5 separate regions of the Homo sapiens genome follow, and regions 1, 2, 4 and 5 are each linked to region 3. The links come from fine-mapping of genetic effects on gene expression. A gene starts in region 3. Each other region holds a variant in brackets. All regions are shown on one strand. Distances are between the middles of the regions. Region 1 has its middle 5.1 kb from the start of TRG-GCC2-2. Region 2 overlaps GPD2 (glycerol-3-phosphate dehydrogenase 2). Region 3 holds the start of GPD2 (glycerol-3-phosphate dehydrogenase 2). Region 4 has its middle 49 kb from the start of LINC01958. Region 5 has its middle 23 kb from the start of TRA-CGC3-1.

What was found. PIP is the estimated chance that this variant, and not a neighbour inherited with it, causes the effect.
Region 1: its variant is fine-mapped to the expression of GPD2 in whole blood (TOPMed, PIP above 0.99).
Region 2: its variant is fine-mapped to the expression of GPD2 in whole blood (TOPMed, PIP 0.96).
Region 4: its variant is fine-mapped to the expression of GPD2 in whole blood (INTERVAL, PIP above 0.99).
Region 5: its variant is fine-mapped to the expression of GPD2 in whole blood (INTERVAL, PIP above 0.99).

The regions. Positions count from the first base shown.
Region 1 is chr2:156,403,732-156,408,862 of GRCh38, forward strand. It overlaps a transcript of GPD2 not described here. Among named protein-coding and RNA genes, the nearest start is that of TRG-GCC2-2, 5.1 kb to the left of the region's middle. The variant A/G (reference allele first, on the strand shown) is at 2,187.
Region 2 is chr2:156,478,343-156,483,342 of GRCh38, forward strand. The region is part of intron 2 of GPD2 (glycerol-3-phosphate dehydrogenase 2); the gene reads left to right. Among named protein-coding and RNA genes, the nearest start is that of GPD2, 44 kb to the left of the region's middle. The variant G/GT (reference allele first, on the strand shown) is at 2,087.
Region 3 is chr2:156,434,361-156,439,491 of GRCh38, forward strand. It overlaps GPD2 (glycerol-3-phosphate dehydrogenase 2), which reads left to right and starts at 2,019. Exons shown (of 17, transcript NM_000408.5): 1 at 2,019-2,153. RefSeq lists silencers at 1,121-1,290, 1,731-2,140 and an enhancer at 1,531-1,580.
Region 4 is chr2:156,615,318-156,620,448 of GRCh38, forward strand. No RefSeq gene overlaps it. Among named protein-coding and RNA genes, the nearest start is that of LINC01958, 49 kb to the right of the region's middle. The variant A/G (reference allele first, on the strand shown) is at 3,179.
Region 5 is chr2:156,374,895-156,380,025 of GRCh38, forward strand. No RefSeq gene overlaps it. Among named protein-coding and RNA genes, the nearest start is that of TRA-CGC3-1, 23 kb to the right of the region's middle. The variant G/C (reference allele first, on the strand shown) is at 2,136.

The DNA.
Region 1 (5,131 bases), 31 kb before region 3:
TAGGTTAACTTGCCTCTTTTTCTGTATTTCTCTGTCACAATAGCAGGTGTGTAAAACAGGTCTCGTCAAATATTTTCCCTTGGCACTGCACTTTCTTAGAGATGGGTATGTGACTAAATCTGGGACAATGAAAAGTCCTTGCCGAAACTCTCTTGCAGAAGTTTTAAGTAAAAACTGTCTTTTTGCTGGGTTGTTCAAACAGGTTGAGTGTATAGTTTGGGTTGTCCAGAAGAAAGAGACAAACATATTCCTAATATGATATTGAGCCACTAGAAGCAGCCATGCCCGACTAGAAAAAATTCTGGATTTTGTGTTTATATGAGTCAGTAAATTGCCCTTAAACAATAAGTGGTGGGCTAAGTGTAGTAACTCACACCAGTAATCCTAGCACTTTGAGAGGCCGAGACAGAAGGATCAACTGAGGCCAGGAGTTTGACACCAGCCTGGGCAACATAGTGAGACCTTGTCTCTACAAAAAATAAAAATTAAAAATTAAAAAAAAATTACCCAGGTGTGGTGGTACACACCTGTAGTTCCAGCTACTTGGGAGACTAAGGTTGGAGGGTTGCTTGAGCCTGGGAGTTTGAGGCTGGCTGCAGTGAGCTATACTGTGCCACTGCACTCCAGCCTTTGCAACAGAGCAAGACCATGTCTCTAAAAAACATACAACAACAACAAAATTAGCCTTTAAACTTAGTTTGAGCAGTATTTTGCTAGAATCTTAACACAAATTGAGAAACAGTTTTACCCCAAACATGGTAAACTTAGATAACTCATTACCCAGGATGTGATATAGACTAATAATATTAAAGTTTAAGAAAAGTTTAGGCCAAGTGTGGTGCCTCACCCCTATAATCCCAGCACTTTGGGAGGCCGAGGTGAGTGGATCACCTGGGGTCAGAAGTTCAAGACCAGCCTGGCCAATGTGTGAAACCCCGTCTCTATTAAAAATACCAAAAAAAAAAAAAAAAAAAAAAAAGCTGGGCATGGTGGTGCGGCTGTAATCCCACTATTCAGGAGGCTGAGGCAGGAGAATCCCTTGAACCCAGGAGGCAGAGATTGCGATGAGCCAAGATTGTGCCATTGCACTCCAGCCTAGGGAACAGAGTGAGACTCCGTCTCCAAAAAAAAAAAAAAGAAACATTTACATTTAGAGAAATTCGTCGATGATGATAACACTACAAGGAGACAACAAAAACCATGAGAAAATTTTTAGGACACATTCCCAGCTTGTTGGAATAAGGTAAACTCTGTTGCAAAGAAGGTTCGGAGCATTTGAAGGAATATTCAGGCAACAGTGTGACAGAGAAGTAGAAAGAGGAGAAACTAAAAATAGAGAAATCCATTCAAGAGGTAGTTAGAATAGGAGTAGAGAGGTGACGAGGTCCTGAACCAAGGCCACAGCTCTAGCATGAGGTGCATGGCAAGACAGAAGGAGGAAGAAAAATTACTCTAGGAATCTACCTTACGTGCTTGATAGACTTGGGGTGTAGTGTAGAAAAGTAAGGAAGAGAAAATACTGGAAGGAAAGGGGTGGTGTAAAGCGCTCATTTTTGGAAATTCTGACTTTGAAGTAAGTAGGAAGAGGTGCCTGCTAGGTGGTTAGATCAACCCCAGGAGAAATCAAGGCTACAGAAGTGGATTTGGAAGTCAATCACCTGATGGGTGAAATGCAAAAATGTGGAAATGGAGAATATCACACAGAGAAAAGAGTGCTGAGGACGCAGCCTTAGGGAATGACAAGAATTGAGGAGCCAAAGTTGGAGAAACAGGACAGTGGCATCTGTGGAGGCAGGCAGAGCCCCACTTCTTTTGCTAATTCTGAATAATAAAACATGACAAACACATATGTCACAGTGTTTCATAGATATACTGTGTAGTAATCCTGTTTCACATCGGGAATGCTGTAGTAGGCAGTGATTTCATTATCCACGTGATCAAGCTTGAAGAGATCAGAGGATGACCAACAGTGCCTTCTGGGTGGTGCACACTAACACTTCCCCTGGTCTGCTCTGTTCCCATGCTCAGATAAGAAGCTCCCATTGAAGCTGGTAGAGAGAAGGAAAGCACTTGAGCACTGTGAAGTGTTACACAATCTTCTCTTTTAGGCAAGCCTGGCCATTGTGACACCCAGTGCGACAGGCAGGGGTTGTAAGTTGCATCATAGCACCTTGGAGCACTTGCTC[A/G]AGGTACCAAGTTCCTAGCTGGTGTTAGCTCATCATAGAAAAGTGGCCAGGCTTATATCATCTGAAGAAAGTAAACAGTTCAGAAACAGAAATAGTTCATATAATACAAAGTCACCAAAGCAATGCCTTTTTTTTTTTTTTCACCTGTGAGTGATCGTATTGATTTAATACACACAGCTTATTTCTGTCCCAGGTTACAAACTAGCCCTAGGGAAACGGTGGAGCCAGTCATTTGGATTGCCCTTTACTGGCTGGGAATTAAATCATTACTTATTCCATTTTAGAATCACAAGTAGTACCCTAAGGCCTACTTTCCTAAGGATTAAAATCAAGGCATGGAAGTGAAGAATCCAGGTGTAATTCTCAGATGCATGCAGATGTTGAGAATGCAGCAATTTTTCCTGGAAAGCTGTCACTGCAAAATCATCCTGCTCACGATATGCTCATTCCTAGTTCTCAAGCATATCCAATTAGTCAACAAGCCTGATTTCTCCTTTTAAAATGGCACTGACTCTTATTCTCCCTCCTCATGCCAATCTCTCCTACACAGTGCAGACAATTATCAGCTCACTCCCTGGGCTACCCAGGAAACCTCAGATTTCCTCTGCCATCCTGCATGCTGCTACCAATTGCATTTTTTCCTTTCCCTCCCCTACTTCTCTCTCTCCCTCCTTTTCTTTCTTCCTTCCTTAATTTTGGAAAATTCAGTCATTTCTTTATTCCAAAATTGAATTAATTTTAAATCCATACAGAGTCCTCATGGTGGAGGAAATGTGAGTGGGAATTCTTTACCTTTCTCTTGACTCTCATCTCTGGGTGAAGCATTTATTCAACTACTTCAGAGCTGTGCCGCTTGGCAGAAATAGCTTTCACTTCCCTTCCTAAAGCTCTTTCTTCTTCTTCTTCCCAAGTTATTTGGGTCTTTTAAAATATATGTTTTTTTCATAAGAAACCCACATGTATGGTGCAAAATTCAAAAGGTATGAGAGAGTATTCATTGAAAAGTATGCCTAGCCTGGCACAGTGGCTCAGCCTGTAATCCCAGCACTTTGGGAGGCCAAGACGGGCAGATCACCTGAGGTCACGAGTTTGAGACCAGCCTTGCTAACATGGTGAAACCCCGTCTCTACTAAAAAATACAAAAATTAGCCAGGCATGGTGGCTCATGCCTGTAATCCCAGCTACTCGGAAGGCTGAGGCAGGAGAATCTCTTGAACCCAGGAGGTGGAGGTTGCAGTGAGCTGAGATCGCACCACTGCACTCCAGCCTCAGCAACAGATCCCAGGTTTCCTTTCCTAGAGGAAACCATTGTTATCAGTGTCCTGTATTTCCCTTCACAAATATTTCTATGTGGATATAAACATTGCAACTTTTATTAAAAAAATTTTTTTAATCTCTTTTTTGAGAGACATGCAATTTATTTTTAAGCACAAATGGTACATACTATACATACTGTTATGCTCATATCCTTTTCTCCCCCCAGAAATATATATCTTGGAAAATTATCCTTCTTAGAACACATAGAGCTAACTTTATCTTTTTAGTGGCTCTATGTTCATTTTTTAAACTGTCTTTTATGGACTAGGAATTAAAACATTATTTTTTCTATCTCACAATAATAAGCAGTACCCCAAGGCCAAGTTTCCTAAGGATTAGAATCAAAGCATGGAAATAAAGAACCTAGCTGTAATTGTAAGATGCATGAAGACAGTGAGGTACCATAATTACCTGAGCCAGTTCTTTGGCAGAGGACATTTAGACTGTTTCTAATCTTTTGCTAGTAGGAACAATGCTACAGTGAATGCCTTGAATGAATGCCATTTTGTTCATGTATGAGAACACCTGCAGGATAAATTCCTGGGAGAAAAATTGCTAAATCCAAGGGTGAGTACATTTTAAATATTGCAAAATTACTCTCCAAAAATGTCTATTTTTCTTAATCATTGCATTTATTATATTACTCTTTTGCTCCCAAATGTTAGTGAATCCTTGCACTTATTTAATCCTCTGCTGTCTCCATGCTGTAATTTTTTTTTTTTTTTTTTTTTTTTTTTTGAGACAGGGTCTTGCTCTGTCACCCAGGCTAGAGTATAGTGGTGCAATCACGGCTCACTGTTGCCTTGAGGTCCCCAGGCTCAGATGATCCTCCCACCTCAGCCTCCCGAGGAGCTGAGACTACAGGCATGCGCCACCACACTGGCTAATTTTTGTATTTTTTGTAGACATGGGGTTTTGCTATGTTGCCCAGGCGGGTCTTGAACTCCTGGGCTCCAGTAATCTGCCCACCTTGGCCTCCCAAACTGCTAGGATTATAGGCGTTAGACACTGAGCCTGGCCAAAAGTAGTGTTCTAAATTACCAAGATTCTTCTCCGCATTAATAGTCTGAGAACTTTTTATATTGTTTTGAAATATGGAAAGTTTGCAGTTTAGGAGAAAATAAAAAAGTTTGATTAAGCTGAAAACATGTAGTGCTAAAAGAGGTCTTGAAAGCATCGCCTGGGAACTGGTTAGAAATGCTGACTGCAGGCTGGGTGCAGTGGCTCTGGCCTGTGATCCCAGCATTTTGGGAGACCGACCTGGATGCATGGCTTGAGCCCAGGAGTTTGAGACCAGTCTGGGCAACATAGGGAGACCACCCCCTGCCCATGATCTCTACAAAAAGTAAAAAAACTAGCCAGGCATGGTGGTGTGCACCTCTGTAGTCCCAGCTACAGGGGAGGCTGAGGTGGGAGAATCTCTTGAGCCTGGAAAGTTGAGGCTGCAGTGAGCTGTGATTGCCCCACTGCACCTGGTAAAAAAAAAAAAAAAAAAAAAAGACAAGAAAGGCAAATGCAGCCAGCTCCTGAAGGATCTTGGCTGCTGGGTGAAGTTTGGGTGAGGCCAGGTAGGCTATTGTGTTATGAGTTAAATTTTGTTGCCCAAAAATGTGCATGTTGAAGTAAAA
Region 2 (5,000 bases), 44 kb after region 3:
TCTGTTGAAAAAGATTACTACAGGCATATGCAATCAATGAGTTGCATAAGAAATCCAACTATGTGCATTTCTTTTCTGGTGATTCCTGTCCCTTTAAGATACTGCCATTAGCATGTATTTGGGGGGTAGCAGGTGCGATGTAGCCATAGGGACTGGCAAAAAATAATAATAATAATAAAAAATAAAAGCAAGAATGAGAAGAGGAAACAACCTATTCCAGACATTGACATAAAATGACCACAGGCCTCCATTAACTCAGCTGTCCTCTCTCAGAAAATATCTGCCAATAAGAGCCATTCTAGCGGGGGGGAATTTTCCTGACTTCAATAGTCAAAAAAAAATCTGCCCTTTGAGATACATTAATTGGCTACACTTTTGTTTGTAGAAGCTGGGGCCTTAAATGTGACTAGGTATGCTCCATTTTTCTGCAGAGTGATGTTTAAGTATTGGCTTGTTACAGGTATATTTACCTACTGTATTTTTGTATTTTTTCTAGTTTCCTAAGAAGATTCCAACTGATAAACTGCCGTTTATTAAGAATAAGTTAGTTTTGAAACCCCAAGTTCCTGATGTCCTAGAGAGCCACCTATTGACTTTGGTTCTGGCACATTTTGCTGTGTTCTTGCATGCTCTGTCTTCCTGGCCCCTGGCTTGTGCCATTTGGTACTCCCAGGACAAAGCTTCTTCCCTGAAATAAAAGCAGGGGCTATATTCTAAATACAAATGGATTGAATATAAAAGTTGGTACATTGTTAAAACATTTTTGGTGATGAGATAGTACTATGAGTGTTTAGGTGCCAGGTCAGCTCCTGAAAACCTTTGAGTCAATTCTGTAGTTAAATTACCTTATATATGTAAAGAAAACAATTGTATATTCTTTAAAAATTAATTAAACATAAGACAGATTGAAATTGAATAAGATGTGGTTTCACTTACCTTTAATGCAGTTGCCTGAATCAGAGCCATTGTAGGTGGGAGAATAGAGGCCTCCATGGAGACTGGTGTTTCTGGGAGCAGGTTAGGGGTTAGAGGTGGTAGCAATGATGCTTTTGTCTCACTCTACTTCATAGTATGGCTTTTCTTCATACAAGCATATTAACAATGCTATTACTTAGGTTTATCAATGATGAATAGTGCCCACTGTTGAGCCAAGTGAACTCTAGAGGTTTATTATTTTTATTTTCTAAGGGAAACAGGTCAGATTTAGAAGAGATAGAGGAATGTGAGGGTTGTTATAGCCTAAGGAGAGGGCAATTATTATTATTATTCTTTTGGAGCTGAGCAGCCTAAATCTTCAATTCCAACCAAGGAAGTTGATGAGGAAAGGAGATGAAGGTTGGCTGACTTCTTTTGCTTGTGTCCACCTGCAGAGGTTTGTGGCCACAGATAACATCCACATTCCAGGCCTTCCTCAGTTAAGCATCTGAGGGCTTTTAGCGTGGTCTTAGAGTGGCTTCTTCTTCATTTTCTTGTCCCCTTTTCTTTATTTTCCACCCATAAGCAGGTGACAGTTTCCACAAAGGGAGCTTGAGTTTTCTTCTCCCCAGACCAGCTGTATGCCAAGGAACAAGAGTCTTAGTACTGCGATATAAGCATTTTACCACTCAAAGAAACCAACCCCACTGGGAATGGAGCAAGCAGAGACACTCTGTGGTGGTGTGGAGATTTTTTAGATCAAGTTGATTGTGATTCACTATTTAGTATAGGTTGGTTTAATAATACACTTTTAATTGGATGAAACTTGGAGGTCATCTTATCCAGTCTAAGGTCTACTGAAAGGAAGTAGCACTTCATAGAGGAGTCTCCTTTTTCTAATTCCAGGCTGGTGGGAGAATGGAGTAGATGAAGAGGGAAATTTAAATTAGGAAAAGGGGTCATGGGATACTTTTAGAACAAGTAAACCTTTTTGAGCAACAGCAGTAGAGAGCATTAAAGTCAGGGCTCCATGAGGAGTCCTCAGGAAGATGGGAAGGTTGGGATGGGAGTGGCCAGGGAGAATGAAACAAGAATAGAGTGGGAAGGAGTACAGGGATTTCACACGGGGCTACCCTAGTCTTTTTTCTTTTCATTATAGCCCAACGGCACT[G/GT]TTTAACACTTTTTTTTTTAAGTTAACATTTATTTCATACCTTCTAGGTCCTAACTGGAAAAACTGATGTGATGATGTAGGCTTTTCTTTAACCTCAGTGATGTGGTTGATATGACAAAAATCTATTCGGGTCAGAAGAGTGGTCTTTCTCACATAACACATTCTAGGTTTGTTCCTTCCATGACCTGGTCTGAAGGTGTGGTGGCTTTGGGCTTTGTGAGCCGAGGTAAAACTTGAGAACCACTGAGAGCTTTCTCAAAGCCCGGATGTGAAAATTTTTTTCCCCCCTGCACCATAAATAGGCAAGGAGTGAGCTTCAGAATATGAAAATCAAGATCTCTCTCTCTTTTTTTTTTTTTTTTTCCTGAGATGGAGTTTCACTCTTGTTGCCCAGGCTGGAGTGCCAGGGGCATGATCTCAGCTCATTGCAACCTCTGCCTCCTGGGTTCAAGCGATTCTCCTGCCTCAGCCTCCCAAGTAGCTGGGATTACAAGCACCCTGATTCTAAGAAGATCATTCCTCCTAAGGTCTCTTTTTAATGGGAGGAATTATCTTCTTAGAATCAGGGAAGTAAGAAATTCTCATTGATTGGTGTGCCATTCATAAGCAACGGAACAAAAAGGCCAAGAGCGTTATCTTTAGAGCAGTCTCTGCAGACTGCCTGCATCTAACACCTAGCTGTACTTTTCTTTTTTGAGGTATGTTTCCTTACCTTTATTTATTTACATATTTATTCCTTTATTTTTGTTTGACATGTCATAATTGTACATATTTATGGAATGCAGAATGATATTTCTGTGCATGTATACAACATGTAACGATCAAATCAGGGTAATTAGCATATCCATTACCTCAAACATTGATCATTTCTTTGTGTTGTGAACATTAAAAATCCTCTCTTGTAGCTTTTTGAAAATATACACTAAATTATTGTTAACCATATTCAGCATATAGTGTTACAAAGCCCTAGAACTTATTCCATCTAGCTGTAACTTTGTGTGTATTAACCAACCTCTCCCTGTCTTCCCCCTCCCCTCCCCTTTCCAGCTTTTAATACCAACAGTTCTACTCTCTATTTCTATGAGCTCAATTTATTTTAGCTCCTAGATATGAGTCAGAACATGAAGTATTTGTCTTTCTGTGCCTGACTTATTTCACTTAACATAATGTCCTCCAGGCTCATCTGTGTTGTTGCAAATGACAGGATTTCATTCTTTTTCTTTTTTTTTTTTTTAAATAGAGATGGGGTCTTGCCATGTTGCTCAGGCTGGTCTTGAACTCCTGAGCTCAAGTTCACCCACCTCGGCCCCAAAGTGCTGGGGATCACAGACGTGAGTCATTGTGCCCGGCCTATTTCATTCTTTTTAATAACTGAATAGTATTCCATCATGTATACATATACCACATTTTCTTTATTCAGTCATCTGTTGATGGACATTTAGGTTGATTCCATATCTTGGCTATTGTGAACAGCTAGTTCTGTATCTTTATAGCTGAGTGACTATAGGTGATTTTCTTAAATTCTCTCAGCCTCATTTTCTCCCTTCTATGAAATAGGGATAACAGTGGTACTTCCTGCACAGGTTTATTAAAAAGCAGTGAAGCCTGGGAGAGTTCCTGGAACATAGGAAGCTTTCAAAAAGTGTTACCTCTTATGAGATTCCCAAGGGATATGAATATAAAGTGCGGTTGTAGTCAGCAAGCAAGTTGCTCTTGTCACTAGAGATCTTGCATTCACGGATACTTTGTTAAAACTTTTGGGATTAGTAGCAAATGATATATCCTTCATTTTAGGTTATAGAAGAATGGCTCAAAGACAGGTGTACCAACACTCTTCTGTTTTCCTTTCTCCTTGCTTCCGGATCTGAGGATGAGCAAGAATATCAACACCAATTGTTGACTTAACCTCTCTAACTGTTATAATAAGTTCCTTGAATTTCCCACTGTTTCTTTCTTTTTTTCTATGTAGGCTTATATGAATTATGGCATACTTGATTTATATAACTGATATGTTGCTAAAAAGTTACAAGAATATAGTTCCTTTGATAAATTAATATCAGTGCCATTTATTGGAATTCTGTGGTGAAACATTCTTTAAAAACAGGCAATATTAGGGAAAAAAGCTCTAACTTTTTTTGGGGGGGATAAATCTGAATTTTCATATATCATTGTAGCTTGAAATGGAATGCAATTAAACTAATTTCTTCTTTCCCAAAGTCAGTGATGTTCGAGCATGTTGATATTATAATAGGTGTTGATGACAGGATCTTCATGATTTGCAAAATAGCCTCTCACTTTGTAAGAGACATCAATTCTCTATGCTTGTGAGTGGCTTAGGAAATACTATAGTTCACTCTGTTATATGTGTTAATTAAGGGAATATGAAAAAAAACCCTGATAACAGTGATGTGTTAGGTGAGTTGAAATACAGGTAAGCCTATACTACCTTTGTTAGTGTCAGCAAAACCCAGGAGGAAAAATATTTATGCTAATGAGAGGCAAAGTGATGCATGGATAATTAAAATCAGCAGGAATTTTGAGAACGTTGTTTTAACTTGTAATTGCAATCTCTCCCTCTCCATACCTTATTTGTAAGAGCTCTAACGAAGTAGTGCTTTTTGATTAGTAGTACCAATGACTCAAAAGTTTTAAAGGCAGTAGCAAAAGATAAGATTGGACAAGAAGCAAAAAACAAAAAAAAAACAAAAAACAAAAATAACAAAAAAGAATGATCAACTCTAGTCAAAATAAGATCTAATTTAGGATTTATTTGAATAGACCCCAAATAAAGCAACATTTAGCTTCCTGAATGTGTCTGTTATGTGAATGTGGCTGGGTTTTGGTGAACCTGTTGTAGCGTGTGTAGGTTATAAAAAATTTCAGAATTCCAATTTCTTCATAAAATAAAGATAAT
Region 3 (5,131 bases):
CAAAGTGCTGAGATTACAGGCGTGACCCACTGCGCCTGCCCGGCCACAAGGAAGTTTTTAAAGGAAAAGAAGAGGCAGTTTCTAAATTGTTTACCAATAATTTACATAAAAAAACAAACTATTAATTGTCTATAGATTGTTCTTCGTATCACAAATTCCAGGAACATGAAGATATGGTTGGGTAGTCAGTCATGAACAAAATGCCTTTAAACAATCGCCTCTGAGCATGAGTGTGGGGGGTGCAACTTATGTCCCATATTCAAGGTCTCTCTGGGCCTGATAAATTTTGCATACCTCACATTGCTCAAATGCTCTGAACTATTTTTCTTTTCTCAACTACAATTTCCTTTTTCTGGTTGCTCATGATTCAACTGGGGGAGCTTTTAAACCGTGGTTCTCAAACTTTAATGTGCATCAGAACTACCCAAAGGGCTTGTTAAATCTGGGTAGCTCAGCCCCAGCCCCAGAGTCTATGAATCAGGTCACTGGAGTACAGTTTCTGTCAAGTTCTCAGGTGATGCTGATGCTGCGGGCTCCAGTGACTACACTTTTAGAGCCAGTTTTAAAATACAAGGACTTGCAGATCCCACGTCCAGACTGACTCATTGGACTTGGGGATGGAAATCTGGCATTCCACCCCTCCCTGCCCCCTCCCCCCAATTTTAATGTGTCCAAGGGTGAGAATCATTGCTCCTCTGTGGACTATGGATGGTTCCCTGAAGTTACTGAGTTTGGGATTTAATAAATATATGCATTCCTCTGGGTCAACTACAGGAATTCTGCGGTATTTAAGGACATTAAATGAGTGACTTAATACTTTATTTAAAAAAATACCACTGCTTTTTGGTTCACACTAATTTTCTTCCTTCTTTTGGAAAGGCATTTCCGTCCATCTCCTGGATATTTTCCAATACCACGATAGAAAGGTTATTAGTACAGCACCCAGAGGTCTTCGGAGCAAAGCTGTTAAAGAAGTGGGGTCCATTTGAGCCCCAACTTTGCCTTCCTTAGGTCCCCTTGGGCTTGTCTAGCCCTAGGAGTTCCAACAAGTAAGCTGGGCATGCTCAGTGGGCAGGGTCGTTTTTTTTTTTTGGGTGGCGGGGGGTTGCAAGTGGGAAGCCTGCTGTTCAGCTGCCGGGGCTCTCCGCCTCCCCCCACCTGTATGAGGCTGGGTCTGGGGAACCTGTGCTCAGCATTCCACCCCCTGGAGCTTGGGCTTGGTCTTCCCTGCGGGTCCCTGCGCTGACATTCAGGCGGGGAGCCAGGAGGCCTGGCGCGCCTCCAGAGCCCGCCGGGGGAGCCGGGCGAGGGTTCTGGGCTCTGACGGCGGGGTCGCAGGGTCGCCCGCCTCCTGGACACGTCTGTAGGCCTAGGGAAGCCTGCCGGCCGGGAGGTACAGAGTAGGAGAAGCCAGATCCCAGGGCGGACAACGAGAAGTCGTCAGGTAAGCCAGCCCCGCCAGCGTGCCGGCGGACGAGTGTCTCCTCTCCCGCAGGCAGATGGCCAGGGCGGCCCGCATGGGCGAGGGCACAGGAAATCGGACACCGCCACCGTCTTCCCCAGCCTGGCCTAGCTCAGGCTTTCCAGTCCGCCAGCCCGCTGGCAAGGCGGGGCGGAGGTCTGGAGTCCGGCATCGCCGAGGCACAAAGCAGGAACTGCAGCCAGGGGCGAGGGCCCTTGCGTGTGGCGCTGCGCGACCCCACCCGGCGGCAGGACCCGCGTCCCCGTCTAGTCACGTTCATTGGGCCACGGAGACCACCTCGCTCGCCGCCCGCTGTTGGCTTTTCCCTCCCACACCCCCGCCAACCCCGGCCCCGGTTCCCGCCCCCACTTCCGCGTTTCCCCGCTGGGCCGGAGGAGCCTGGGCCCGAGGTATCCGGGCAGGAGGTGGCGGCCTCGCCGCCCTGGTCAGGCCTCCGGGAGGGAGCAGGCGCGGGAGCGGGAGGAGGAAGTCGGGAAGAGGGAAGGCGGGGGCGCGGCCCGCCCGGCGCTCGAGTTACACCCGCCCAGCCCGCCTCGAGTGACAGCCCCGCGCGCCTCGCTGGGAGCACCCGGGCCGAGGCTCTGATTCTGGGGGGAGGCCGACTCCACCCTGGCTGGAGGAACTGGGTGCTCCTGCCCGCTGGCCCCTCGCGCGTGAGGATCTATCTCAGGTGTGTGCTTCCTGGGAGACCCCTTCCCCCGCCTCTAGTATTCTAGGGGGGGAGTGGTCCCTTTCTGACCCGGGCGAGTGTTCTGGGACTCCAGTCTTGGCGGTAGGTGGTGGCGGGAAACGGGAAAGATTTAGAATTTCTTCCCACCAGCAGAAGATGGATTCGCTCTTCTCTAGGGTTTCGTTGTTTATGTTTTGGAGGCGGCATTTGTAAAATAGTAAAGTGGCAGGACTTTTGGGGCGAGGGTTGGTACCCCATTGAAAGTTCATGCAAACTTTTAGCTTGTAGATGCGGCTAGTCTGATAAGGATTGTTGCTCCCTTCCGAAGCAAGAGTGAGAACGAGTCTGGAGGAGGGCTGAGGCTTCTTTGAGAAACTCAGCTGCTGGCGTGTGACCGTCCTAGGAGGAAATGGAAGGTGCACACTGATAACTTAAAACAGCCTCCACTCCCTATGTAGTAACTTCTACCAGCAAAAATAGATTTGCAAAGAGTGCTTTGGCAGGAAGGTGTAGCTGGGTGAATGAAGTGCTGCTCTTAGCAGATGGTCTCTAGTCTGGCTTCCACCTTGTGCAGTGGAATATTCACTCCCAGAAGAGTTCCAGAGTAATTTACAAACACAAATTCTTGCAAAGTGTTAGTGACATGGGCAACCCAAATCACACACAACACATTATAAATATCATAGGAGGCAGCTATAGAAATAGCAGCTAGTCAACTTATACTTGTATAAATAGGTGAGGGAAGGAAGTTAGTAAGTGACAGGGAGTCTTTATTGCTAAAACAAAACTGTTAGTATTTTGCATGTGTTCCAAGTTTAAAGAGATGTGAAGTTTCTTTTTGGCGTGTGGACGGTGCTGGCAGCTGTCACACTGGGCCCAGGCACTTCTTCGTAGCTACTGACCACTCTAGTCCCAGTCCTACAGTTCTTGCTGGCTACCACATGACATCTGGATGCCATTGCCCAATGGAGACCGTGTGCAGTCTGGGGAACCTTGTGATGTGGATGTTGAAACCCCCCTCTGTTTCTCACAGGGGCGTTATGTCAAATTACAACACTCCCTTGACTTTTACAAATCAACTCGTGAAATAATACAGCAATATTTTAATGAATAAATGGGTAAATATGGGGTTTTGGGTTTGAGAACCAACAATGGATTCATTGCAACTGTCCATTCTCATAGCTTATAGAGTCACTTTATTTTATAAAGAAATTCTAAACAGCATTAGAGCTCTGCTTCCTTCTTTCTCCCTTGTGATTCATTCAAAGATGCAATGGCTTGGTTCAGGAATTGACAAAAGGGCCACAGTGTTACCAATTGTTAGTGAGTGTTACCACCCCCTTTAGTTTTTTTTGTAACTATTTAATCTCATTGTAGATATTTTAAAAGATTTGATGATTATTGTGCATAACTCATGTTGGCAAACTATTATAACTCTGAACTTATCCTGTTTGGTTGTTTTCTTTCATCTCTAGCGTGTAAGTTCTATGAGAGTAGCAGGGCTTGTTCTGTCTTGCATACTTTCAAAACTCTAATGCCTGGAGTGGTGACTAGCTTGTAATACACCCTCAATAAATGTTTTCTCAATGAGTGACCTCCAATGCCTAGAGGGGTGACTAGCTTGTAATACACCCTCAATAAATGTTTTCTCAATGAGCGACTGAACTGTGGAACAAACTCCAGCTGAGGGTAGTTGTGGAGCGGGGAGCCAAAGACTTTGGCCTTAGGTCATCTTTTAAAACTCAGCCTCAATTGTCTCATTGGCAAAATATGGATAATAAATGCTATGACGTGTGTAAAATTGCTAGCAATGTACCTGGCAAGTAGTAGACTTCAAAAGACTAGCTTCCATCCTATATTTTTCCTTCTTATACTCAAGTAGGAAAATATGGGCAAAGAATGTAGTTAGCTTGAAAATTTGGGCAAAGAATTCTTGCATGTTGTGCATGAATTATCCGTACATTTTTTTCGGTTAGTTGAGTGTGTTGGGATGGGGAGAGGAGAGGCGAGTTAGTGGTAGCTATGGTTATTAGAGAAGGGAAGCAATTTTCAGATCAGTATCTAATTTCTCAGTTTTAGTTTTTGAATGTGATGATGTTTCTGTTTAGGTTTTCCAAAACTTGATTCTTTCTGTTTGTCAACACCTGGACTCATGGGGCTATCCTAAGTGCAGAAACAACACTTCAGAAAGAGGACTAGAAATCAAATATATGAACACTAGTCTTCTTAAATGAAATTTTCTGTATTCTTGTGCAGCATTATATTGTGTAATAAGTGCTAAATAAAAAAATAGTTAACCTCTTTTGAGAAGCTTACAGTTGTTTAACAAGGTAAAACATAGATGGAAAACAATTGGAGACCAACATAAGACCTCGTACAATCATTTTTCCAGTGGTAGGATGTTGGCCAGAACTGATGTGATTATGAAGGAAAAGGTTAATATTGGCTCAAGTAGTTGGAGACAGCTTCCTGGTGAAGGGAATGCCACTTCAGTAACAGAGAGACTTAACATGTCCTGAAGACTATTGGAAAGATCACCTTTGTTTTAGGAATGTTTGCTATTGTGTACTTCATTGTATGAAAAAGCCAACATAATCTTGTACTTTCAAAAATGATCTTTCTGTTGAAAATTATATGGGAAATCTTCAGTAAAATTCTGCATATGCAAGAAATCAATACTTGTCACTATGTCTGTGAAGTTTAAAGCTCAGGATTGGCGTGAAAATGGTAACTCTTCATTCTTGTCCACCTTTAACACACTTGCTTAAAAATGTGTCAGATAGGCCAGGTGCAGTGGATCACACCTGTAATCCCAGCACTTTGCTTTGGGAGGCCAAGGCAGGCAGATCGCTTGAGCCCAGGAGTTTGAGACCAGCCTGGACAACATGGAAACCCCATCTTTACAAAAAAATACAAAAATTAACCAGGCATGGTGGCACGTGCCTGTAGTCCCAGCTACTTAGGAGGCCAAAACGTGA
Region 4 (5,131 bases), 180 kb after region 3:
GGGGCAAATGGGCAGCACTGTGAAGTCTGAGAGTGGGGTGTTACTGGAACCAGGTTGTAAACAACAAAATGTTACTTTCAAAATCTCTGGGTTGGAAATAAAAAGTCAATAACAACCTGCTGCTCAACATCTTATGTCAATTTCTGGGACTAAATGAAAGAATATAATGTTTATAGAGAAGAAAATCAACAATAAATGACTTGTGTAAATAATAATTGGTATATATACATATACTACCCTCTTAGCTATCTTGGGCAATGTAATTATAACACATCAGAAGAAGAATTAAAATTCATATGGCTAGGCAAAATGTTTTAAGATAAATAGGTAATCCTTGAGGATTAACAACACTCTTCCAATTTAAGGGAAAAAAAGTTGTCTCATAACGAATGTTACAGTCAGTTGCCTGAGTTAGTGTTTCCCATAAAATGCAACTCCCAGAAATACTCCTGAAAAGAGAAGAATCTACAGCTTGCAACACTATAATGTACTTTTTCTGAGTCTTGATTTCTCTAGAAATTAAAACATTCAGTTTGGAAATATGGGGCAAGACCAGATTGTAAACTGCAAATTGTTAAATACTTCAAAAGAAAGAAACAATACAATAAGTTGGTTATGTAAATTGGATTATACTAGTGGCAGAATGAAAAGTGAACTAGAAGCAGCCACAGAAGAAACAAGAAGGCTGTTGGAAGGAACTGCTGTAGTCTAGATAAGGGGTGACGATAGTTTAGTCTAGGGTGTGGCAGTGGAGAACAGGGAGAATGGAAAGGTTTAAGAGCTATCTGACAGATGAAATGGAAGGAAATTGATGATGAGTGGAGAAAGATATGTGAGGATGGTCATGTCAAAAGTTACTCTCAGGATTTTGGCTTAATTCTAAAGTAAGAAATGATGCTTTAAAAAATGTTTTTCCTCATAGATAGTCTTAATGTTCTCATACATGTGGATAAATTGCCAGGTGTATTCTCTTCAAGTAAAGACAACTTTAGAGGGCACACGTTTAGATTTTTGCAAATTATGTTCCCTCAACAGGTGTTTTAAGAGCTCCAAGAGGCACTACGTAATAAAGTAGAAAGGTGATACAATTGCGAAGTTAAAAAATGCAAGTTGCAATGCAGTTTCTATGGTATGACCACATTTAATTTAAGCCCTAAAGCTCTGTATTTGCACATGGACATCTATGATATACATAGAAAAGTTCTTAAAGGAGACTTGAAACTGTTAAAAGTGGTTATATTGGGGAAAAGAAAGGAATGGGAGTTAATGAAGGTGACAATTTAATTACCATCTATACCTCTGTATTGTTAGAATTCTTAACAGTAAAACATATATATCTACAGTTAAGATAAAACAGAACAAAAAGAGTGATATAAAGTTGTCTTATTGTCTTTGGTGAAAGACAATATACTAAATGTCTTGGACAACTGGTGTAAGTAAGTGCCAGGCATATTGGTAAGGTCAGAGGTGTGCAAATGATTACATTATTTCTTATTACTAGCATCCTGGGATAGAGAGAGAAGGTCTGTGCTCAGGCAGTGGACGTGGATTCTAACTGTTACTATGCTGCTTGATATCACAGGACTCTGGGCCACTCAATTCATCCTCAGGTTCTCAGGTTCCTTATCTGTTACATTAGAAGGTCAGGCTAAATCAGGGGTGGCAAGCCAATTAGCATGGCCCCCATTCTCCAAACTCTCACTCTTGGTAGGTATTTCTTTTTTTCTTCTTTTCTTTTCTTTTTTTTTTTTTTTTTTTGAGACGGAGTCTTGCTCTGTCACCCAGGCTGGAGTGCAGTGGTACGATCTCGTCTCACTGCAAGCTCCGCCTCCTGGTTGGTAGGTATTTCTGTGTCCGGAATTGGTGGGTTCTTGGTCTCACTGACTTCAAGAATGAAGCCGCGGACCCTAGCGGTGAGTGTTACAGTTCTTAAAGGCGGTGTGTCCGGAGTTTGTTCCTTCTGATGTTCAGATGTGTTCGGAGTTTCTTCCTTCTGGTGGGTTTGTGGTCTCGCTGGCTCAGGAGTGAAGCTGCAGGCCTTCGCGGTGAGTGTTAAGCTCTTAAGGCGGCACTTCTGGAGTTGTTCGTTCCTCCCGGTGGGCTCGTGGTCTCGCTGGCTTCAGGAGTGAAGCTGCAGACCTTCACGGTGAGTGTTACAGCTCGTAAAGGCAGTGTGGACCCAAAGAGTGAGCAGTAGCAAGATTTATTGCAAAGAGCAAAAGAACAAAGCTTCCACAGTGTGGAAGGGGACCCAAGGGGGTTGCCACTGCTGGCTCCGGCAGCCTGCTTTTATTCTCTTATCTGCCCCCACCCCCCGACATCCTGCTGATTGGTAGAGCCGAGTGGCCTGTTTTGATAGGGTGCTGATTGGTGCATTTACAATCCCTGAGCTAGACACAAAGGTTCTCCACCTCCCCACTAGATTAGCTAGATACAGAGTGTCACACAAAGGTTCTCCAAGGCCCCACCAGAGTAGCTAGATACCGAGTGTGGATTGGTGCATTCGCAAACCCTGAGCTAGACACAGGGTGCTGATTGGTATGTTTACAAACCTTGAGCTAGATACAGAGTGCCGATTTGTGTATTTACAATCCCTGAGCTAGACATAAAGGTTCTCCAGGTCCCCACCAGACTCAGGAGCCCAGTTGGCTTCACCCAGTGGATCCCGCACTGGGGCTGCAGGTGGAGCTGCCTGCCAGTCCCGCGCCCTGCGCCTGCACTCCTCAGCCCTTGGGTGGTCGATGGGACTGGGCGCCGTGGAGCACGGGGCAGTGCTCATCGGGGAGGCTCGGGCGGCACAGGAGCCCATGGAGGGGGTGGGAGGCTCAGGCATGGCGGGCTGCAGGTCCCAAGTCCTGCCCCGCGGGAAGGCAGCTAAGACACCGAGAAATCACCTAAGATTTCTTGGTGAGAAATCGAGAGCTGCGCCGGTGGGCTGGCACTGCTGGGGCACCCAGTACACCCTCCGCAGCCGCTGGCCCGGGTGCTAAGCCCCTCATTGCCCGGGGCTGGCAGGGCCGGCTGGCTGTTCCGAGTGCGGGGCCCGCCAAGCCCACGCCCACCCGGAACTCCAGCTGGCCCGCAAGCGCCGCGCGCAGCCGCGGTTCCCGCGCTCGCGCTTCTCCCTCCACACCTCCCTGCAAGCTGAGGGAGCCGGCTCTGGCCTTGGCCAGCCCAG[A/G]AAGGGGCTTCCACAGTGCAGCGGTGGGCTGAAGGGCTCCTCAAGTGCCGCCAAAGTGGGAGCCCAGGCAGAGGAGGCGCCGAGAGCGAGCGAGGGCTGTGAGGACTGCCAGCACGCTGTCACCTCTCATTTCTAACCCATCATGGCTCTCTTTCTGCTGAGACGAGATCTACCAATTGGAGTTGGCACCCTAGAAGAAAGGTATTTGTCATCACAGATCACAGATTACCTGGAGAGGCATAGTAGCCTGTTAGAAAGAGCATAGGCCTTGGAGACAGGCAAACCTGGATTACATTTTTCAGTGCCATTTACTGAGCTGTGTAAATTCAGACAAATGAATTAACCTCTCGGAGCTTCAGTTCTTTCATCTGTAAAATAGATACGATACTTCCTACCTCAGTAGTTTGAATGTGTCCCCTCCAAAATTCAAGTGTTGCCATTTTGATAGTGTTAACAGGAGAATTTAATTACACTCAGATTTAAAAAAAGGTATTAAGAAGTGGGGCCTGAAAGAGGTGATTAGGCCATGAGGACACCTTCTTCATTAATGGGATTAAATCCCTTATTAGAGAGCCTTCACAAAGCATTTGGCTAGCTTGCTCTTCTGCTTTCTGCCATATAAGGTCTTATCAAGAAGGCCCTCAACAGACCAAGTGCTGGCAACTTGATCTTGAATTTCATAGCTTCCAGAACTGTGAGAAATGAACTTGTGTTCTTTATAAATTACTCAATCTCAGTGTTTTGTTATAGCCACACTAACAGACTAAGGCCATTATCTATTTTTGTTGTTGTGTGCCCTGTTAGGAGCTGCCTCCTCTCAGCTCCTCAAACTAAAAATGCTTACATCGGCCAAAATCTATTTCTTCATCCCAGTTAGTTCAGCAAAGATAGACTATACTATTCAAGGCTTCAGTCTCAATGCCAATACACAAGGGCTCTGCACAGACCTTGCAGATACCTCATCTGTGCACGCAGCTTTAGAGGTATGATACTTGATATTCAAGAAGGGAATCAAAGTGGAGTGGTTTCTCTTTGAAGAGCAATTTAAATATCCTGTGTTGATCTTCAGTCATGAACAGGAGTGGTCTTTGTATGAATTGAGAAGCCAACAAAAGTGGCTGTGTCTCTGCTCCCCACTCCCAATTTGGAAACCCTGTGAGCATGACTAGGTGGTCTGTATGATGTAATTTGATTTGTTAGAATGTGAGTGGCTTACAACCATCATTTGCGAGTAAATTACTTAGCCGTATTCTTCTTTACGACTGGCTGAAGAAACTTACTTGATGGTATAATATAATTTATTCCTGTGAATAAGTGAGTGACCTTCACATCTCAATCCATCTCCTGTGAGTTATGGGCCTTTTTTCACTCAGGAAAATGGCCTGTGTTTTACCACTGCCTACCATTTTCCACATTCCATTCCACTAATTGTGTACGTAAATAAGACAGTCTAAGATGCTGAAGAAAATTATATTAACATGCTAAATACCAAAATAATTCTTGGTGTATACCAAAGCATCTTTTTTCTAAAGATCTGCAAGCAACATTTAAACATTTTGTTTCTGTATTGACAGTCCTCTTAGCTAGAGTAAATCAATAGTATTAATCCCATTTTATAGATGGGAAAACTAAGGCTCAAAAAGAAATTGGCAACCTGGAGCCCAGTGGTACAGAGGCAAGTCATAGAACATGTAGCAGGAAAGGAAGTGGCTAAGTGGTGTATGGAATACACTGATATACTGGATTTTAGATTGTTTGTATAGTTTGTATTCTACTTTGCTTAATGAATGATAACTAATATTTGTTGAATTTTACACATGTTGTAGGCATTGTTCTAAGCATTTGACATAAACTGGATTACTCAGTCCTGGTGATAGTCCTTTGAGGTGGTCATTATAATGAATATCCTCATTTTATGGATGAGACAAGAAAAAGTAACTTGTCCAGGATCAC
Region 5 (5,131 bases), 59 kb before region 3:
GACATAGATTTGGTCTTTTCACATGGTCCCATATTTCTTGGAGGCTTTGTTCATTTCTTTTTATTCTTTTTTCTCTAAACTTCTATTCTCGCTTCATTTCATTCATTTGATCTTCAATCACTGATACCATTTCTTCCACTTGATCGAATCAGCTACTGAAGCTTGTGCATGCGTCACATAGTTCTTGTGCCATGGTTTTCAGCTCCATCAGGTCATTTAAGGTCTTCTCTACACTGTTTATTATAGTTAGCCATTCGTCTAATCTTTTTTCAAGGTTTTTAGCTTCTTTGCGATGGGTTCGAACATCCTCCTTTAGCTTGGAGAAGTTTGTTGTTACCGATCGTCTGAAGCCTTCTTCTCTCAACTCATCAAAGTCATTCTCCATCCAGCTTTGTTCCATTGCTGGCAAGGAGCTGCATTCCTTTGGAGGAGAAGAGGCAGTCTGATTTTTAGAATTTTCAGCTTTTCTGCTCTGGTTTCTCCCCATCTTTGTGGTTTTATCTACCTTTGGTCTTTGATGATGGTGATGTACAGATGGGTTTTTGGTGTGGATGTCCTTTCTGTTTGTTAGTTTTCCTTCTAACAGTCAGGACCATCAGCTGCATCTCTGTTGGAGTTTGCTGGAGGTCCACTCCAGACCCTGTTTGCCTGGGTTATCACAAGTGGAGGCTACAGAACAGCAAATATTGCAGAATGGCAAATGTTGCTGCCTGATCCTTCCTCTGGAAGCTTTGTCTCAGAGGGGCACCCAGCTGTATGAGGTGTCAGTTGGCCCCTACTGGGAGATGTCTCCCAGTTAGGCTACTCGGGGGTCAGGGATCCACTTGAGGAGGCAGTCTGTCCATTCTCAGATCTCAAACTCCATGCTGGGAGAACCACTACTCTCTTCAAAGCTGTCAGACAGGGACGTTTAAGTCTGCAGAAGTTTCTACTGTCTTTTGTTCAGCTATGCCCTGCCCGCAGAGGTGGAGTCTACAGAGGCAGGCAGGCCTCCTTGAGGTGCGGTGGACTCCACCCAGTTCGAGCTTCCTGGCGGCTTTGTTTACCTACTCAAGCCTCAGCAATGGCAGACGCCCCTACCCCAGCCTCACTGCTGCCTTGCAGTTCAATCTCAGACTGCTGTGCTAGCAGTGAGTGAGGTTCTGTGGACGTGGGACCCTCTGAGTTAGGCACAGGATATAATCTCTTGGTGTGCCATTTGCTAAGACCATTGGAAAAGTGCAGTATTAGGGTGGGGGTGTCCCAATTTGCGAGGTACTGTCTGTCACGGCTTCCCTTGGCTAGGAAAGGGAATTACCTGACCCCTTGTGCTTCTCGGGTGAGGCAATGCCCCGCCCTGCTTCAGCTCACACTCCATGGGCTGCACCCACTGTCCGACAAGCCCCAGTGAGATGAACCCGGTACCTCAGTTGGAAATGCAGAAATCACACATCTTCTGCATCGCTCATGCTGGGAGCTGTAGACTGGAGCTGCTCCTATTCGGCCATCTTGGAACCACTCCCTCCTATATTTTATTTTAAATCGTGTTTTAAACTAATAGATGTTTCTTTATTATAAGGGAAATATCCATTCAAGTTTTAAAAATAGGAAAATTTAGACATGTGAAACAAAAAAGAAAGGAAATGAGAAAGGGAAAGAGGGAGGGAGGAAGAAAAGAAGAAATGAGGGAGGGAAGGAAAATAGAAATCTTGTTGAGATATCTCTGTTTTTTAGTATGCATCAAATATTTGTTTTATGTAGTTGAGGTAAAGTTATTTATACTTGTGTTTTAAGCATAATTAACAAACTTTCATTTGTCTTAGATGACAGGTAGTATCTACCACTGGATGGTTTATTAGTCTTTCCCAATTAAAAAAATGACTCAGTTAATCAATATGAACTTTAAAGATGTGGGAACTTATAATTCAAGTTTCTTAGCAATAAAAAATGATCACTATATTGCTGTATATAGATCTATTTTCTAGAATGGAAGAAAGAGACTATAATAATTCTTTGAGCGTGGCTCACAAATTTGTAAATAGTTTAGCCTTTATTTTAGAATTTTATCAAAGTAGTACATGCATATGTTATGCCCTAAATGTTTGTGTCCTCTAAATTTATATGGTGAAATCCTACCCTACAAGGTGATAATATTA[G/C]GGAGTGGAGGCTTTGGAAGGGATTGGGTCATGAGAGTGGAGGTCTCATGGATGATATTAGTCTCCTTATAAAAGAGGCCCTTGGGAGCTCATTGCCCCTTCCACCTATGAGGATACAACTGGTGGTGCTGGTCTGTGAACCAGAAAACAGGCCCTCGCCAGACACTGAATCTGCTGTGGCCTTGATCTTGGACTTCTCAGCCTCCAAAACTATGAGAAATACATTTCTGTCATTTATAAGCCATCCAGTTTATGGTACTCTATTATAGCAGCCCGAATAAACTAAGAGACGATACAATTTTAAAAAACAAATCCAAACACAGAAGTCCTCCATTCTACCTCTCCTAGTAGTTCTTAGTTCATTTTCCCAGAGATAAACACTTTCCATTCTTTTAGCTATCTCTTCTAGACTCTACTGTCTTAGATGGGTGTGATGGCCCATACCTGTAGTCCCAACTACTCAGGAGGCTGAGGTGGAAGGATCACTTGTGCCTGGGAGGTGGAGGCTGCAGTGAGCTATGAATCATGCCACTGTACTTTAGCCTGGGCAAAAGAGTGAGACCCTCTCTCAAAAAAGAAAAAAGACTACTGTCATAGCTCTTGACCATTTTAATGCCATTTATAGAGGTACTGATTTGAGACTTTACTTTTCGCATCCTAAATCTAAAAGATAAAGATCTAGCATTCTTCTACCCCCAATTTTTGGTTAAATGAATACAAATTTGTTTATATTGCTACAACTTACCACATAAATATTATTTATAAATGAATATGTAATTTATTATGATTTACATTTCCTTTCTTCTATGACTTTGATTTCCTGAGCTAATTATTGTTTATTCTTGTGGTTATTATAGTTATGTTTGCTTTACTTTCTTTATATCTAATATTATTCACCCTCCAAAAATCTTTTTTCAAAATAATTTCAACTTTTATTTTAGATTCACAGGGTACATGTGCAAGTTTGCTATCTGGGTATATTGTGTGACATTAAGGTTTGGGGTGTGAATGATCCCATCACCCAGGTACTGAGCATAGTACCCAATAGTTTTTCAACTCTTGCCCCCTTGCCTCCCTCCCTGCTCCAATAGTCCCCCCTGTAGCCATTTTTATGTTCATGAGTATCCAGTGTTTAGCTCCCACTTACAGGTGACAACATGCAGTATTTGGTTTTTTGTTCCTGTGTTAATTCACCTACGATAATCACCTCCAGGGGCATTTATGTTGCTGCAAGGGACATGATTTCATTCTTGTTTATGGCTGTGTAGTATTCCATGGTATATATGTACCCACTTTTTTTTATTCAATCCACTGTCGATGAGCAGCTAAGTTGATTCCATGTCTTTGCTTTTGTGAATAGTGCTTCCATGACCATACAAGTGCATGTGTCTTTTTGGTAGAACAATTTATTTTCTTTTGGATATATACACAGTAAGGGGATTGCTAAGTCAAATGGTAGTTCTCAGTTCTTTGGGAAATCTCCAAACTGCTTTCCACAGTGGCTGAACTAATTCACATTCCCACCAACAGTGTATAAGCATTCCCTTTTATTCACAACCTCAACAGCATCTGCTGTTTCTTTGACATTTTAATAACAACCATTCTGACTGGTATGAGATGGTATCTTACTGTGGGTTTGATTTGCATTTCTCTAATGATTAGGCATGTTGAGCATTTTTTCAAATGTGTGTTGTCCATTTGTATTGTCTTCTTTTGATAAGTGCCTGTTCATATTCTTTGCCCATTTTTTAGTGGGATTATTTGTTTTTTGTTTGTTCAATTAAGTTGCCTATAGATTCTGGATATTAGACCTTTACTGGATGCATAGTTTCTGAATAGTTTCTTCCATTCTGTAGATTGTCTGTTTACTCTGTTGATAGTTTTTTCCTTTTTCTTGCTGTGCAGAAGCTCTTTAATTCAGTTAGGTCCCACTTGTCAATTTTTGTTTCATTGCAATTGCTTTTGAGGACTTAGTCATAAATTAGTTCCCAAAGCTGATGTTCAGAATTCCTACAAAAATCTTTACATTGATAGTTTAAAATCAACTACCCCACTGACAGGAGAAATGTATCAATAGAGTCAAATATATCAAGTTCCTATTTCTTTTTGGTTTGGTTGATTTTTTTTTTTTTTTTTTTTTTTTTTTTTTTAGTGATATCTCTTCAACCCCATCATTGCAGTATCAAAGACCAACTACTTTCTAGACCTTCTGCATAGCTATTGTCTTGGGAATTCCCCTTGCAACACTCTATGTTGACTATTTTCTAGACCTAAGACTTCTCCTTTTGTGGTGTACTCCTTCACTTTTGTAAAACAAATCATACATTGGAGGGCTTTCTTTTTTCTTGAGAAGTTCCTTGTCTGATCAATTTTTCAATTTTTACTTACACTCAGTTGATAGTGTGGGTGGGTAAATAATTCAAGGCTAAACATTATTTTCTCTTGGATCATTAAAAACATTTTTTCACTCTTCTGGCATCCTGAGTTTGGATATATTCTTCGAATATGATGTCTGCTTCCACTTACCTTTATCACAGGTGTTCTAAAATGTTATCATATGCTTTGATGTCGGTCTCTTTTTATCCATTGTACCAAGAACTCGTGAGAATGTGTTCTTTGGTAACAATATTTTCTTATATTATTTCTTTCATCATTTTTCCTATCCATTTTTTCTTCCTCTACTCTGGAAGTCTTATTGATCTGATTTTTAACCTCTTTTGTTAGCATAATTGATTATCTTATTTTTCCTCTCCTGTGGCTGGCCTTTTTGCCTATGCTAGTATTTTTTCTGGGTGATTTCCCCAACGTCATATTCCAAACATTCTATTAATTTTTAAAATTTCTGCTGACATATTTTTTAATTTCTAGAGACTTATTTTTTTCCCTTTTCCTCTCCACTTCTTTTTCTTCAATAGCATATTGTTCTTGATTTACAGATATCTCTCTTAGATTTCTGATTATATTAATTATAGGTTTTTTAAAACACAATTTTCTTT